Regions from separate parts of the Homo sapiens genome. Here all the other regions are reported to be linked to region 1. Evidence: microRNA targets listed by miRTarBase, many of them from high-throughput screens and not tested one by one. Region 1 holds a microRNA gene; each other region holds the end of a gene's coding sequence. Distances are from middle to middle.

What was found. The annotated mature microRNA hsa-miR-421 reads AUCAACAGACAUUAAUUGGGCGC and lies in region 1 at 2,393-2,415, opposite strand. An mRNA with a match to its seed (bases 2 to 7 or 8) in the 3' UTR can be bound and repressed. Matches are read on the target gene's strand: a 7mer-m8 pairs with bases 2 to 8, a 7mer-A1 pairs with bases 2 to 7 and ends in A, and an 8mer does both.
Region 2: the mRNA of PCNX4 is a reported target of hsa-miR-421. Seed matches in the 3' UTR shown: 8mer at 842-849.
Region 3: the mRNA of MSL3 is a reported target of hsa-miR-421. The part of its 3' UTR that is shown has no 7-base or 8-base seed match.
Region 4: the mRNA of NFE2L1 is a reported target of hsa-miR-421. Seed matches in the 3' UTR shown: 7mer-m8 at 2,420-2,426.

What each region holds. Positions count from the first base shown.
Region 1 is chrX:74,216,000-74,220,151 of GRCh38, forward strand. MIR421 (microRNA 421) reads right to left here and starts at 2,462; the gene lies at 2,378-2,462. All of the region lies in intron 5 of FTX (FTX transcript, XIST regulator), which reads right to left. It overlaps MIR374B (microRNA 374b), which reads right to left and starts at 2,619; the gene lies at 2,548-2,619. MIR374C (microRNA 374c) reads left to right here and starts at 2,550; the gene lies at 2,550-2,619.
Region 2 is chr14:60,133,789-60,137,788 of GRCh38, forward strand. It overlaps PCNX4 (pecanex 4), which reads left to right. Exons shown (of 11, transcript NM_001330177.2): 11 at 182-4,000. The coding sequence ends at 433. Among named protein-coding and RNA genes, the nearest start is that of DHRS7, 30 kb to the right of the region's middle.
Region 3 is chrX:11,774,489-11,778,488 of GRCh38, reverse strand. MSL3 (MSL complex subunit 3) reads right to left here. Exons shown (of 13, transcript NM_078629.4): 13 at 2,717-3,509. The coding sequence ends at 3,410. Among named protein-coding and RNA genes, the nearest start is that of MSL3, 18 kb to the right of the region's middle.
Region 4 is chr17:48,059,021-48,063,020 of GRCh38, forward strand. NFE2L1 (NFE2 like bZIP transcription factor 1) reads left to right here. Exons shown (of 6, transcript NM_003204.3): 6 at 1-2,525. The coding sequence ends at 621. Among named protein-coding and RNA genes, the nearest start is that of NFE2L1, 13 kb to the left of the region's middle.

The sequences.
Region 1 (4,152 bases):
GTTTTTGTTGTTGTTTTTTAAGAGCAGCACTAGCTCACTCTTCAACTCAGAGGCTCAGAAGCCAAAGTACATTATGGAACATGGCCAACAAATGCTTGTAACATGTAACTAACTTAGGTCAAGATCAAGGAAAAATTTAGATCCTAAATAAATCTTTTTATGCCACTTCAAGCTGACCAGCCTGCAGCTCTTTGAAAGAGTTAGGAGACGGCCACAGGATTCCAGCAGTGCTAAAGGCCAACAGCTCCCCTAGCTGTTCTCACCAGGAATTCTTGCGCATTCTCCCACTCCTGAAGTGTGACAGACCCAAAAGAGGGAACAGATGGCATATAGCAAGGTGTCAGGCATAGAGCAAATACTCAATAAAAGAAGGAATCACCTGGATCCCCCCACTCTTCTAAGGCTCATCTACTATCCCACTACAGCCTTTCTTCTCTAGTATTTGCAGTTAACATGTGCCAACCTCCAAGTCATTCCTCACAGTCACTGAAGCCTTTTGTACCTGGCCCAGTGTTCATTCTAAGCCTAGCTTCTACTATAATCCTGGGTTACTATAATAGTCATGTAAATGATCATCTGACATCCTAGCTTCACAGGTATCTTAACCACTCCAGTTTTGAAATCTAACACTCCAAAGTCTACTCTGATTACAGGTCCTATCACTCCAGTTTTCCAATTACTCAGCACTCACCTTGTTCACATTAAAGCCTCTTTTTGGCCCAGACTGAGGCCACTCCTGACCTTACTTCCTTCCATGTCCAGGTTGGATTTTTTTTTTTAAATGAAGTCTCACTCTGTTACCCAGGCTGGAGTACAGTGGGTGGGATCTCGGCTCACTGCAACCTCCGCCTCCTGGGTTCAAGTGATTCTCCTGCCTCAGCCTCCTGAGTAGCTGGGATTACAGGCATGTGCCACCACACCTGGCTAATTTTTGCATTTTTAGTAGAGACAGGGTTTCACCATGTTGGTCAGGCTGGTCTCGAACTCCTGACCTCAGGTGACCTGCCCACCTTGGCCTTCCAAAGTGCTGTGATTACAGGTGTGGGCCACCGCGCCCGGCCTTAGTTTGGATTCTTAAATCCATTTCTGTGTAACTCGTCTCTTGCTAGCTGTCCACCCCTCAATCAATCAAGGCAACCAAATACTGCTAGTGACAATGCCCCAAAACCACTTCATATTTTCCTGAGCTTCTAACCCAGTTTCAAACTCATTTCTTACTTTGATATACCATAAGCTCTCCTGTTAATGGTCTCACTCCAGCGTTTTGGCCTGAATATTCCTTAGGGACTCTGGTTCATATTTAGCCCTCTAGTATTTCTGTTCCAGCAGCTTTTGTCTTCATATTCCTGTTCCTGGTCAGCTTCCTCCCCATCATCCACCTCTACAATTACAAATCTTCACCACCCTTGCCAAGTCCTCTTCCTTACTCCTATCCCTATCTCTGTGCTCCAGCAAAGAGGTAGTTCCACTTACCTAAGGCTAACCCTCCACCTGCATGTGTTCTAGAGCCATAAATTTCACCCTTCCAGCTTCACCTGCATCATCTTTCAAGATCATCTTCCATCTATTATCATCTCTCTCTTTCTCACATCTACAATGACTCCCTTCTCAATTCCTTCTGCCCCATGGTCTGCAAACACACTCAATTTTTTTCTCATGTTAAATGATTCACTGTAAGGCGCTGGATAAGTGGTTTTAACTTGTATTCTGGTTGTCACATCTACAATCAGAAAAGCTTCTCACAAAATAATGATTAAGTACAATAAATAAGATAAAGAAAATATGAACCTGGTGAGAGGTGAACAGGACGGTGGAGGATTACCTGTCAGTGCAGGTAAGGGGATAGCTGGAGTAAAGTTGAAAGGGGAAAACTTTAAATATCAGCCACAGGAGCAAACCTCAGACTGTGAGGATGAGGTTTCTGTTCAGACAATGAGCACTCTGGTCCAACCCAGGGAGCAATTAGCAGCAATTACAGTAGCAGCAACAGCCATGCAACATCAGCAAGTAGCTAAGACCAAAATGCAGGCATAGAAATGAAGTATTTCATAGAAAACAGAGTAGCAAATATGACATATGAGGCACTTGTGCTGCTACTCCCCCTTCTCCGACCCTCAGCAGACATCACTAAATAGTTATAAATGTCTTTCACACTGAGATAAGACCTGGTTTCAGAATCTTGTTATAAAACATAATCAGGGCAGGCATTATCAATCAATTGGAGATGGTACTTGAGATGAAGTGTATTTGCTATCATTGCACTACACAGAAAAGTCCTCAACAAAAGAATTAGAAGACAGGAATAAGCTTCAGGAGTAAGCATTCTGAAGAGAGCTTGGACGTTGTTGGCAACTGGCGGGGACAAGCTGAGCCCATGGAGATCACAGAGCAGGCGCCCAATTAATGTCTGTTGATGATTCATTTTTTCATTCAACAAACATTTAATGAGGCCTACAATGTGCACCGGATTAGGCACTGTGAATACAAAGATGAGTAAGGCACTGTCCTTGCCCTTAAGGAATTTAAAGTCTGGTAGACGAGAGCCATAGACACGGACAATGATAATACAACCTGCTAAGTGCTAGGACACTTAGCAGGTTGTATTATATCCATCCGAGTAGGATTTCTTCAGAGGAGCACCACTCCAGGTTGCTGCTGGATCCATGAAGTCCTCCCAGGCACCAGGGTCTGCTGTTGTTTTTGTCACGTGCTGGGTGTCCCAAGATCTAACAATAATAGCTGTAATTAATGTATAGAGTGCCTATGACAAACACTTTACAAATATCTTCATGGAAACTCTGAAAATTAATAGTTATATTAGAGGAAGAAACTGAAGTTCAACAAGTTTAAGTCACACAGCCAGCAAGCAGTTGAATTAGGTTTCAAATCCAGTTTTGACAAAGTCTAATGCATTTTTCTGTTTTCAGGATAACCTTTATGCAGGTGTAATACAACAACTTTTCAACAGCTTTCTATTTGGAACTAAAAGCAAAGGCAATAGATTAGTCACTAGATCATGGAGTGATTAATTTGGTTTCCCACTCTACCTGGCAGAGAAATAAAAGGTGAAATGACCTCACACTTACATACCATTGAAAACCTTCAAGTCAGTTACTGTTTTTCTTTCTCAACCCTAACATCGTCACTGATCATTCAAAATATAAGTACCTCTAGTCAAATCTCTTCTTTTAATACTTGTCATAGTCAACACCATTATCAGCAACAACAGTTGACACAGCATTTAGCTGTATATTCCAGGCCTGTTCTAAGCAATTTACATAATTAGTCCCTTTAAGTACTTTTTACCCCCATCATTGAAAATAAATATTATTCCTATTTTACATAAGAGAAAACAGAGTCCTGGGGAAGTGAAGAATCATGCTCAAGACCACATTGCTAAGTGTGAGAGCAGATTTGAGCCCAGGCTACCTGGTCCCAAGACCCAAACTCTCACTTTACATAGCTCTGCTGCACTGCTCAGGGCCTCCTTTCCCAACTCTTGATGGCAAGTTACACAAGGCCCCCTGAAAAACCCAGTCCTACTTACATAAAATCTCATCACTAACCATTCTGGTCATAGAAAGCCATTCTCTAAATCCCAAATATCAATACTCAGAGCCTTAATTGGAAAATTTCCCGAAGAACATTGAGTTTAGAATATACCTTTGCAAAAAGAGAAAATAAACACTCGATATGTTTAGGTTTTTAATTATTGAATTTTTTTTTTACTTGCAGATATAGTCATAAACGTTTTAAGATCCATAAGCAAACTAAAGCAATTATGCCAATAATGACTAAGGCCACTGCTTCCTCAATTGAGTCTTTGATATAAAAGCCTTCACTTTTGGTTAATTACAAAAAAAAAAAAAAAAAAAAAAAAAAAAACCGTGGGAGATATGTGACAGTGAGAGTAGGCCTGCTACTGATGAGAAGGACCAGCAACTTAGCAACACCATAAAATGTCTGCTGCAATTCAGGTGTCTAGGTGTCTCCCTGAGAATCAACATTTCATATACAGCTGTTCCCAGAAAACAATCTTGCACAATCTGTACAGTCAAGTTATGATCTAAAAGGAGTTAATTGCAACATTCATCCAAAGAATATGACAGTATTTTTCATCAAGGTCTTTTTCTATAAGTTTTTCTATAACTT
Region 2 (4,000 bases), not on the chromosome of region 1:
ATTCTTGATTCTGAATACAGGCAACTTGTGTACATTTTTAAACACTACTTTCTGTTTTTTGAACTTGGGAAAAGTTTGCCTAATTACAATGCAATTTTTCTCTAAGTTTATGAATAAAATATAAAGACCTAAATGGAATCTCTTTTCTTTTTCTCCTCCTCCTACCCTTTTTACTTTAAAGGGAATTTACACTGGGAGAGTGCTTAGCCTTCAAGAATTATTGATCCAAGTGGGAAAGTTAAATCCTGAAGCTGTTAGAGGTCAGTGGGCCAATCTTTCATGGGAATTACTTTATGCCACAAACGATGATGAAGAACGTTATAGTATACAAGCTCATCCACTACTTTTAAGAAATCTTACGGTACAAGCAGCAGAACCTCCCCTGGGATATCCGATTTATTCTTCAAAACCTCTCCACATACATTTGTATTAGAGCTCATTTTGACTGTAATGTCATCAAATGCAATGTTTTTATTTTTTCATCCTAAAAAAGTAACTGTGATTCTTGTAACTTGAGGACTTCTCCACACCCCCATTCAGATGCCTGAGAACAGCTAAGCTCCGTAAAGTTGGTTCTCTTAGCCATCTTAATGGTTCTAAAAAACAGCAAAAACATCTTTATGTCTAAGATAAAAGAACTATTTGGCCAATATTTGTGCCCTCTGGACTTTAGTAGGCTTTGGTAAATGTGAGAAAACTTTTGTAGAATTATCATATAATGAATTTTGTAATGCTTTCTTAAATGTGTTATAGGTGAATTGCCATACAAAGTTAACAGCTATGTAATTTTTACATACTTAAGAGATAAACATATCAGTGTTCTAAGTAGTGATAATGGATCCTGTTGAAGGTTAACATAATGTGTATATATTTGTTTGAAATATAATTTATAGTATTTTCAAATGTGCTGATTTATTTTGACATCTAATATCTGAATGTTTTTGTATCAAGTAGTTTGTTTTCATAGACTTCAATTCATAAACTTTAAAAAACTTTTAATAAAATATTTTCCTTCCTTTTCAAATATCCTTCTAATATATGTGAAAGGAGCGGGGTTCATCCCATTCATCATGTGAATATTCACAGGAAGAGCAATGTTAGGGTAATCTGCATATGACTACTAAAGCATATATCTGACTCATTATGTATTTCTTTCAACTGAATTTACTGCTTCTGAAAAATGATTTACCCAACAGGACTACCAGTTACTAGTGTCTTAAGGTATATGAACTAAAGTCAGAAGGAGATGGAAGAAAATTTTTATAATACGATCTGAATTTTATTTTCATTCTCTTCTTGCTTAGGAACGTTTTACAGATACATGTAAGGGGGATTAATAATGAATCCACATCAGTTGAGAGATCAGTTTCCTCTAATTCTTACTTAATTTCCAATGAAATCAGTAGGAGCCCCCTAGATTTATAATAATGTATTCTCCTTAGAAATCATTCAAATTATATGAAATGTACCAGTTAAGTTGTTATTAGTATTCCATTTATTTAGTATGTGGACGAGTTCACTCTAACAATGTTAAAGGATAAACTTTTTGGACCAATTTTCAGTTAATGAATTCAAGAGATTTGTATGTTATTCTTTTTTTGGAGGTAATATAGTACAGTTACTAAGATAGGATTTTGTATTACTCTGAGTTTACATCTCAGACTTATGATTTAATTTACATGATTGAGATTTGCTAGCTGTACACCTTTATATCTTTGTCATGTAGAAATATTTTCTCATGTCGTTAAAAGTACTTGTAATTATCAGCTTTTTTTTTTTTCCGAGATGGAATCTCGCTCTGTCACCCAGGCTGGGGTGCAGTGGCACGATCTCAGCTCACTGCAACCTCCGCCTTCTGGGTTCAAGCGATTCTCCTGGCTCAGCCTCCTGAGTAGCTGGGATTAAAGGCGCATGCCACCACGCCGGCTAATTTTTGTATTTTTAGTAGAGACAGAGTTTCACCATGTTGGCCAGGCTGGTCTCGAACTCTTGACCTCATGCTCCGCCCGCCTCAGCCTCCCAAAGTGCTGGGATTACAGGCGTGAGCCACCGTGCCCAGCCATAATTATCACTTTTAATGACAGCATAAAATTCCATTGATAGATATTATTTATTGGACTACTGTCCCCCAAATAATGTGAATTTTAAGTTGTTTAGAGATTTTCACTGTGATAATAATGTCAAGCTATGCCTTCGCTTAACCTTGCATCCTCCTCAAAGTGCTCCCATATCTCCATTTCATTCATAGCCAGGTTTTCTCTTTCATTTACTTGTCAAATCATTCCAATCTGGATCCCATCTCCATGACTCTCCCAAATTAAAAAAAAAAAAAGTTTTTATTAAGGTCACTATTGACCTTTTTATTGTCAAACCAGCTAGTAGTAATTGACACATTTGACCATTCCTTGAAGCAGCTTTTGTGTTTTCTTTTGAACTTTCCTGACACTACATTATCTTTGTTTTCTTCTTATCTTCCTAGCAACTCCTCAAACATCTTTGCTGCCTCTCCTCTTCTACCTGACCTCTAAATTTTAGAATTTCTCAACAATTGATTCTAGGCCCCCCTTTGTGTTTCTGCAATCACCATAGATAATCTCATCTACTTCAAGACTTGAAATATCATCAATAAATTGATGATGATCAAATATATGTACCTAACCCAACCTCTCTTCTTACACTGAACCTATATATATCACTTATTTGGTATCTTCACTTGGTATATTAAAAACTGACTGTTAGATTTTGAAGGGAAGGTGAGAGTTAAAGAAAGACACACAGAGGGCAGCTTGACAGCAAATGCAGACTTTATGTCTAGCATAAAACCTACAGAAGTGGGGGACCAGCTTAATGCCAGAGCCCACCGCTGCTTACAGGCTGGGCGTACTTATAGGCATGGGTGAGAGGGGTCTGGGCAGTATGGCTTGCTGCTCGGCAGGATATTGATAAGATGCTCCCATGATGAGGTGGTTCTGGCCCTTGTTGTGGTGGGATGTCATCATAGTATTCCTTGGAACTTTGCCCAGCAAGATATGATAGGGATATTTCTTAGGTTGGGCCTTTTTCCGCCTTGTGGTCAGGTGGTTAGGCAGCATGTTTCTCACTGCCCGAACCCCTGTGAAATGTTTTACTTTGATCAAGGTCTGCAAAATAGCGGGGAGCTTACAAAATGGTGCAGTTTGGACTAACACTAACGTTACTGAATTTTCCCTAAAACCTACTTTTCTACTTCTAACTTTTAGTGGTGCATTCATACCAACTATTTCAGAGAACTAGCAATGCCAGGCAAAATAGTATTTTAAAATCTGCTTAAAGGCATTAGAGAACCAAAAGACAGTGAAGAATAACATCACTAAGATCTAAGACAGAATGAAACTTAGAGACCTGAGCTCAGCATTTGGGCTGCTTTTCTTATAGGAGACATGCCAATTCAGGATAAGGTGGTTGAGAGTCTGAGACGCTAAGTAACACTTATAACAGCCTTGCTGCTGAGTTAGAGGGACAAAAACTGGAGACCAAGACTCTCCAAGGAAGTAGGGGAGGGGAAAGGAATCCTAGTTAACTGACCATACATTGGGTTGTGACCCCAAGGACCATATCCAAATTGTAAGGGTGAAGAAAAACCAGATGCAGTTAGGATCTTCTCACTTCCCAAAACTGGATTCAGGTGACCCTTTGCTGCAGCCGCTACCCAGAGCAAATGTAAATCCTCTCTGGACTGATCTTTTGAGTTATTTTTATAACTTTTCATGTTTAGTGTTGGAAAGTTATTTAAGGTATCTGAGGAAACAAGACAACATGATGAAAATCCGAAAGAAGCGACAGATGATGGGACAGAGCCACAGGGGACCCAGATAATGAGCTATACAACACAGGGTCTAAAATTACTATGTTTAGTGTGTTTAAAGATCTAAAACACAAGATTGAGAATTTCAGCAGAAAATCAGAAACTATATAGAAGAATCAATCAACAAGTCCCCAACTTAAAAGTACATTAATCAAG
Region 3 (4,000 bases), 62 Mb from region 1:
CTCAGCATGACTGGGAGCTCACTAGCAGTTCAGGCCGGCTGACTCAGAACCCACATTCTAGCAAGACTGCCCATCAAAGCAGGAGAAGCATCATCCTGTAGGAAAGGTCTCCTGATTTCCAGCAACCCAACTGTTCAACTACATGTGAACTCTTGCTTATTCACCCATTTCTAGTAATTGCATTCCTCACTGTGTGATGAAAGATCTAACACATGTATTTTCCACGTATGATGCATGTTGGCAACATGTCCATTCTGGATATGATGTGGGATAGCCTCCCAGTTGCTGTGCCTGTCACCATGCAAAGGGAGTGGTGCTGGCTAGGTACATCCCAGGCCCTGAGACAATTTGCTGGGGACTTGTATTCTGCTCATTGGTTAGATATCCCATAATTTACACCGGAGGGAAGGCTGAAGGCAAGAAATAGCCATCGATAAACTCATGTTGAGTTTAGAAGGTGGATTCCAGAGAAGCACTTGGTCTTTTGACCAGAATAACATAAAAACAAATACACACTAAAGTCATCCAGTTCAAAAGATTTAACTAGTTTATTGAGGAGTTTCTTGCTTCTTTGGAGTATAAACATGATTTCCAAGTTATTGCTTTCAACTTAATCTATTGAAACCCCTTTACCCAAGTGTATATCAAGTTCCTTAACACCATCTTGGCCAGATTTCATAACTGATGAAAACATTCAATGATCAAACCCTCTGCACTGAAAACCAGTTAATAGAAGCATACTTTATTTTTGGGACAATGGAAGGGTTAATTTTGGAAAATGCTGACCTTTATGGGTTACATTACACTTTTGTATATTATGAACTGATTAAAGTAACACACTTCCTTAATACCAAACTTGATTTAGTAAAAATGATGGTCAGTGCCTGTAAAAATTATCTTAACTGTATTCCAACAAGGACCATGCCTTATTTCTTCCCGTTTCCAATACCTAGTAGTTTCTGGCAGCAGAATAAGTAGTCAATAACTGCTCAGAAAAACTTAACTGTTGACAAGCCAAATCTTAAAGGGCAAAGGCTATTGAACTATCTTTTTAACTGCAAAACAGGGTCATTATACTTGTTCAAATTTTTGAGTTGACAATATCTAATGAGAGACAGCAACTTTTATAAATTGATAAGTTTTCTTTGGCTTCTTTAGTGTACGTCATACCCTGGAATGATTTATATATTCCATTTCTGCTCAGAAATGGTTTTTTTGTTCTCACAAGTTTTTGTCAAAGATCTAGTACAAGGGTCTGATACAGAAATTATTGAAATATTGTTTTCAACATGCCTTTAAATTACTACTAAAAGGAAAACATTGACAATGAATATAAGACTTAACAACTGTAAGGTTTGGCAGTTTAAGAAAGTAACAATTTAAAAATTAACAAAAGGAAGATAATTTGTAATTTGTATAAGGATTATATAGACATTTAAATATTTTTATCTGAGGAATATTTTGAATTATTAGTAATAAACAATAGAGGGTTAGATGTTTTGATGAAAAATTAGTACTTAAATCAACCAAAGCTGCACAGCATCAACTGTTTTTATTTCTTTTTTTGAGACGGAGTCTCGCTCTGTTGCCCAGGCTGGAGTGCAGTGGCGCCATCTCAGCTCACTGCAAGCTCCACCTCCTGGGTTCACACCATTCTCCTGCCTCAGCCTCCCGAGTAGCTGGGACTACAGGCGCCCGCCACCACGCCCGGCTAATTATTTTGTATTTTCAGTAAAGACGAGGTTTCACCATGTTAGCCAGGATGATCTCGATCTCCTGACCTCATGATCCGCCTGTCTCAGCCTCCCAAAGTGCTGGGATTACAGGCGTGAGCCACTGCGCCCGGCCACATCATCAACTTTTGAAGTTATATTTAAGAAATGCCTTCAGGGGAAGAAAATAATTGTTCATTATTAGAAAATGAATTAACTGTAAACTCAAGGTATGTGCCTATATAAATGTCTGTGCTCACTTCATTGGAGACATTTAAACAAGTTGAGTCTTACAAAGGAAAATCTTTTTCCTTTTCCTGGCCATAAGTAATTACTGATTCAGCTTTTTAAGCAATTCAGAGCACACTGCAGGTGCGCCAGATTCAAACAAGCATTGCATAAACCAAATGGAGATAAAAGCTACCAGGAACCTGAGTACTACTCCGGATGAGACACCAAAACCCACGTCTAACTTAGCAACTAAGTGCACAGTATTAATTCTCATTGGTCAGTGTATGCATAAGTCACTTTGATGAAACCATCTACAGATTTTTAAAAAATCTTTGTGGCCCTTGTTCACAACCAGTGATCTTTGGAAGTTAAGGTCTGCTGAGTTGAGTTACAAGGCAGGTGCTATATTCAATGCTGGTATGGTACTGATACCATTTCTACGAAGTTAGAACTTTCTAAAACATCTGAAGATAGGGGAGGCATGTGCGACTAAAATAAGGATTAGAGGAGTGACTGCAGAGACTGTCAGTTGGTAATGAGGGAGGAGGAGGATAAGCTGGTGTTAGCCCCAGATGAGACCACAATGCAGCAACAAGACAGCACAGAACTGCAGGAACTTCTAGGAACCACTGTCTGGTCCTGCTGCCAAGTGAGGCAAAACCAAAGAGGGATTTAACAAAAAAAGGCACAAAGGAAAAACAAAATGAAACCTAAAGTTATGAGTCAAAAGGTTACCCCACTGTTACCCTGCATTAAAGAGGACAAGGCCAGAGTGAAAACTCTCTCTCCTGGTTCTTTCAAACAAGACAGGCTTTATTTAGATCACCAAAAATAACATTTTACAGAAAGGGAACCATAACATTACACAACAAAGTATAGCTGTAAAATCTCAAATAAGAAAGGCAATGCTTTCTTTAGATCACCAAAAATAATGTTTCACAGAGAGGGAACCGTTAGAAGCAAATGCATAGCTGCAAATTTTCTTTTGCCATCAATATCGATTCCCTCTAAAATACTTTGAGACTACTTTGTGGTTTCCGAGTACAAACTAAACCTTTTTGGACAGAGTTGCTCGGCTTCATCAAAAAAATAAAACCAATTTGCAAAAAAAAATTTGTTTAATGCTAACAAATAAAGAGACAATGTGGTTCTTGCTAACTAACTGCAATGTCTACTGAAATGGCCTAACCTATTCCACGAATATTTCACTGTGAACATAGTTGCTTTTTCCTTGCCATCACAGATGGCCTGCAAAGTAACAAGTGTCGTGTCAGAGCACTTTCAGGCACCCAGGGAATCATTCCTAACAGAATAACTGCAGTATGTGGGCAACTCAAACAACAGAGCCCCAAGGTGGGCATTGTGTTTGCGCTGTGGGTAAAGACCCACCACCTTGTTAGTTATTCACCTGGAACCCAGAGCGCCAAACTAGACAGAGCAGTTGCTCTTACAGAACCAACAACATTTTAATAAATTGCCCGGGGGTTCTTGGTGCTGTAATGTGCCTCACAGGCAGCGACATAAGCCGACTCTGGGAAGAAGTCATCGTGGTATTCTGCTAAAAACCTGGAAAAAAAAAATAGCCCCAATGAGCACCATACTAAGGACTAAATACCATCAAGCAAAATATTGACTTTCAACCTACTAACATTTCAACTGTTTTTTGGTATTAGGAAGAAAAAAATGACTATAATTTTGATCTCTCTATACTGATTATTTTCACTGCACTTATCCAGCTTCTATGTGAATTACTACTTATCTGAATGCCTTCACCATCATCAGGTGTACAAATGGAAACAGAACCTACACTCCACTAGGTGGCAGTCTGGTTATATAAACACTTCTGTTGGGGGCGGAAAAAAAAAAGCCCATGAATGTTTCTACATTTTTCTGTTGTTCAAACAAACTATTAAAAACAACAGATTATAGGCTGGGCACTGTGGTTCACGCCTGTAATCCCAGCACTTTGGGAGGCCGAGGCAGGTGGTCACGAGGTCAGGAGATCGAGAACATCCTGGCTAACACAGTGAAACCCCGTCTCTACTAAAAACACAAAA
Region 4 (4,000 bases), not on the chromosome of region 1:
TACCTGGAGCACGTGGGCCACAACCACACATACAACATGGCACCCAGTGCCCTGGACTCAGCCGACCTGCCACCACCCAGTGCCCTCAAGAAAGGCAGCAAGGAGAAGCAGGCTGACTTCCTGGACAAGCAGATGAGCCGGGATGAGCACCGAGCCCGAGCCATGAAGATCCCTTTCACCAATGACAAAATCATCAACCTGCCTGTGGAGGAGTTCAATGAACTGCTGTCCAAATACCAGTTGAGTGAAGCCCAGCTGAGCCTCATCCGAGACATCCGGCGCCGGGGCAAGAACAAGATGGCGGCGCAGAACTGCCGCAAGCGCAAGCTGGACACCATCCTGAATCTGGAGCGTGATGTGGAGGACCTGCAGCGTGACAAAGCCCGGCTGCTGCGGGAGAAAGTGGAGTTCCTGCGCTCCCTGCGACAGATGAAGCAGAAGGTCCAGAGCCTGTACCAGGAGGTGTTTGGGCGGCTGCGAGATGAGAACGGACGACCCTACTCGCCCAGTCAGTATGCGCTCCAGTACGCCGGGGACGGCAGTGTCCTCCTCATCCCCCGCACGATGGCCGACCAGCAGGCCCGGCGGCAGGAGAGGAAGCCAAAGGACCGGAGAAAGTGAGCCTGGGGAAGAAGGGGGTTTGAAGCCCACCAAGACCGAAACTGGAGAAGGGCTGGACCTGGACCTGGACCTGGACCTACAGCGGGGACTTAAATGCCTTCTTATCCAATATATCTTCTCAGATGGGATGACTGCGGGTCAGTGTACAGGAAGAGGCAGGCACTGGCTGGCTCAGCTCCACTCGGGTGGAGTGGAAGTGGCCAGACCATTTAGACGGACAGGGTCCTCACCCTACCCCTTTCCTGTGAGGCAGGGGTGGTGGTGGAGTTGCTGGAGGTAGAGGAGCTATGTGGAGCAAAGGCCGACAGAGGGGAAGGAATGGACCTGTGAGAGGAAGGGAAGGTGGCAGAAAGTCTCATTTCAGGAAGGAGGGATAGAAGGAAGGAAGGAAGGAACCCCCCCCCCCCCGAAAAAAAAATCAAAGCGGGAAGAAAATCAGAGGGAAGGTTAAGGTTGGCTCTGGCCAGGATTCCAGGCAGCAGGTTGGAGTGACTGGTGGGCCTAGATCACTGGTGTGATAAACCCCAATTTTCACCCCGGGGGGGGTGGGGTACACAGACACAGGGTGGGGGTGGGGAGGGACGGTGTTAACTCTTTCTGCTCCTTGCATTTTGACATCCCTGAAGGGGAGCTCTTGGATATCATTGGCCATGTTTCAATCGAATGGAGCCACTGGGCCCCAACACTGGCTTTGAGATTTAGAGTCAAAGGGTAGAGTGAACAGGAAAGGGTCACGTGGTCCCATGTTGCAACAGCCCCAACATCACGCATGTCATTCACTGCCTTGCCACTCCATCTCCCTCCGTGCTCCAGCCACCCCTGAGCTGAGGCTCCCATTGTCTCCATCAGAGCCTGCATGTGTATGCCGTCCTCCCCTGGTCCGGTGTTTGTGTTCCCCACCCCTCACAGACTGCCTGAGCTCTTCTGTAAGCTGGGGTAGGGTGATGGCAGTGCTCCGGGAACTGGGCCTGCAGCCTTCCTCTTCTGGGACTGCTGTGAGGCAGAGGAATGATGGAGAATCTAGTGTAGCAGCCTCCAGGCAGGATTCAGCACAACACTGGGGAGTCACCCTTCCCTCGGGCCTCTGCCTACCAACAACTGGGCTTATCACTGGGAAAACACAAAAAATTACACAACCCAGCAACAACAAAAGAACTAGTCCTCTTAGAATTTCTTGCGCTTTGATTTTTTTAGGGCTTGTGCCCTGTTTCACTTATAGGGTCTAGAATGCTTGTGTTGAGTAAAAAGGAGATGCCCAATATTCAAAGCTGCTAAATGTTCTCTTTGCCATAAAGACTCCGTGTAACTGTGTGAACACTTGGGATTTTTCTCCTCTGTCCCGAGGTCGTCGTCTGCTTTCTTTTTTGGGTTTCTTTCTAGAAGATTGAGAAGTGCATATGACAGGCTGAGAGCACCTCCCCAAACACACAAGCTCTCAGCCACAGGCAGCTTCTCCACAGCCCCAGCTTCGCACAGGCTCCTGGAGGGCTGCCTGGGGGAGGCAGACATGGGAGTGCCAAGGTGGCCAGATGGTTCCAGGACTACAATGTCTTTATTTTTAACTGTTTGCCACTGCTGCCCTCACCCCTGCCCGGCTCTGGAGTACCGTCTGCCCCAGACAAGTGGGAGTGAAATGGGGGTGGGGGGAAGCACTGATTCCCAGTTAGGGGGTGCCTAACTGAGCAGTAGGGATAGAAGGTGTGAACCTGGGAGTGCTTTTATAAATTATTTTCCTTGTAGATTTTATTTTTAATTTATCTCTGTGACCTGCCAGGGAGAGGGGAGAGAGAGAGAGATGCTGTTGAGCACATGACAAAATAAAATAAAATGGATGATTCATTCTTAAGTGCACTTTTTCCCCACTTTGAATTTAAATTGAGAATAAAGGAAATGGACTCATTGTAGGGAGGACTGGCCATTGCGTGGCTAAGGCAGAGCTCACATGGGAAGATGGGTGGAGAACTGGGGAGGTTGACAGTGGGGAACTTCAAAAGGCAAGTCTTAAATATTGTATTAAACCTTGGGGGCAGGCATTAGACACCATGTACTTCATAGGGTTAGCCAGCTCAATCCTCTCAGGAAGGATTCGGAGTTTTTTTATTCTCATACAGCTAGGATAGGTGGAGGTGTCATTTAACCCAGCTCTTTACCTGTCCACCTGCTACAAACTACATTTTTAAACTCAACTGTGCTGTTATTTTTCTATTGGCCTCACCTGCCAAAGGGGTGCAGAGAATTGGAGTGTAGTTATGATGTTGAAAACCTGAGAAATCCATGGCAGCGACTAACATGTGACAAGCACTACTGTGTTAAGCAGGAGCAGGGCCACTAAAGAGAAGCAGGAGGCCAAGGTTTAGGACACTGGGAAACCTCCCCAGCTGAGGGGGCTAGAATCTGCTTTCCCTCAAACTGCTCAACTACCCGCCCTGTGAAGAGCTGTAATGTGTGAAGGTCTCTGGGATGCTGGAACTTCCACATGCCCATGTTAGGGCAGGTGTTTAGTAGATGCTGGAAGAATGAACACTCACTCAGCAGTCTTTTTATTGGCAGGGTCTTGCTTTGTCTCCCAGGCTGGAGTGCAGTGACGTGATCTCGGCTCACTGCAACTGCCACTGGGCTCAAGCCATCTTCCCACCTCCGCCTCCTGAATAGCTGGGACTACAGGCGCACGCCACCACGCCTAGGTAATTTTTGTAGAGACAAGCTTTCGCTATATTGCCCAGGCTGGTCTCAAACTCCTGGCATCAAGTGATCCGCCTGCCTCAGCCTCCCAAAGTGCTGGGATTATAGGCGTGAGCCATTGCACCTGGCTTCTGTGAGATTATTGGGCAGGGTTTAGGAGTGGAAGCTATGATCCTCTTAATGGAAGCTGTGATCTCAAACTCCTGGATACCACCCTGTAACCTGGTTCAGCTCAGTCCTTTAGTGATACTACTTCAGTAATGTTTACAATTCAGTAGAATTGTAAGAATAATGATGGTTTCTTATGTTTCAGTTTATAAGAGCCTCTCCACAACTCCCCAGTCTCCAGTTGGAAAGGTTTGGTCATATCAAACAAGAACTCTTTCCTAATTCAGAATTGACTAAAGTCTGTAAGCCAGATAAAACCAAGATACGTAAAGGGGTGAAAAAACCAAGACTAAAAATTAGTTTGAGGCCTGGTGCGGTGGCTCACGCCTATAATCCCAGCACTTTGGGAGGCCGAGGCAGATGGATCACCTGAGGTCAGGAGTTCAAACACGAGCCTAACCAACATGGTAAAACCGTCTCTACTAAAAATACAAAAACTAGGCGGGTGTGGTGGCGGGCGCCTGTAATCCCAGCTACTCAGAGACTGAGGCAGGAGAATCGCTTGAACCCGGGAGGCAGAGGTTTCAGT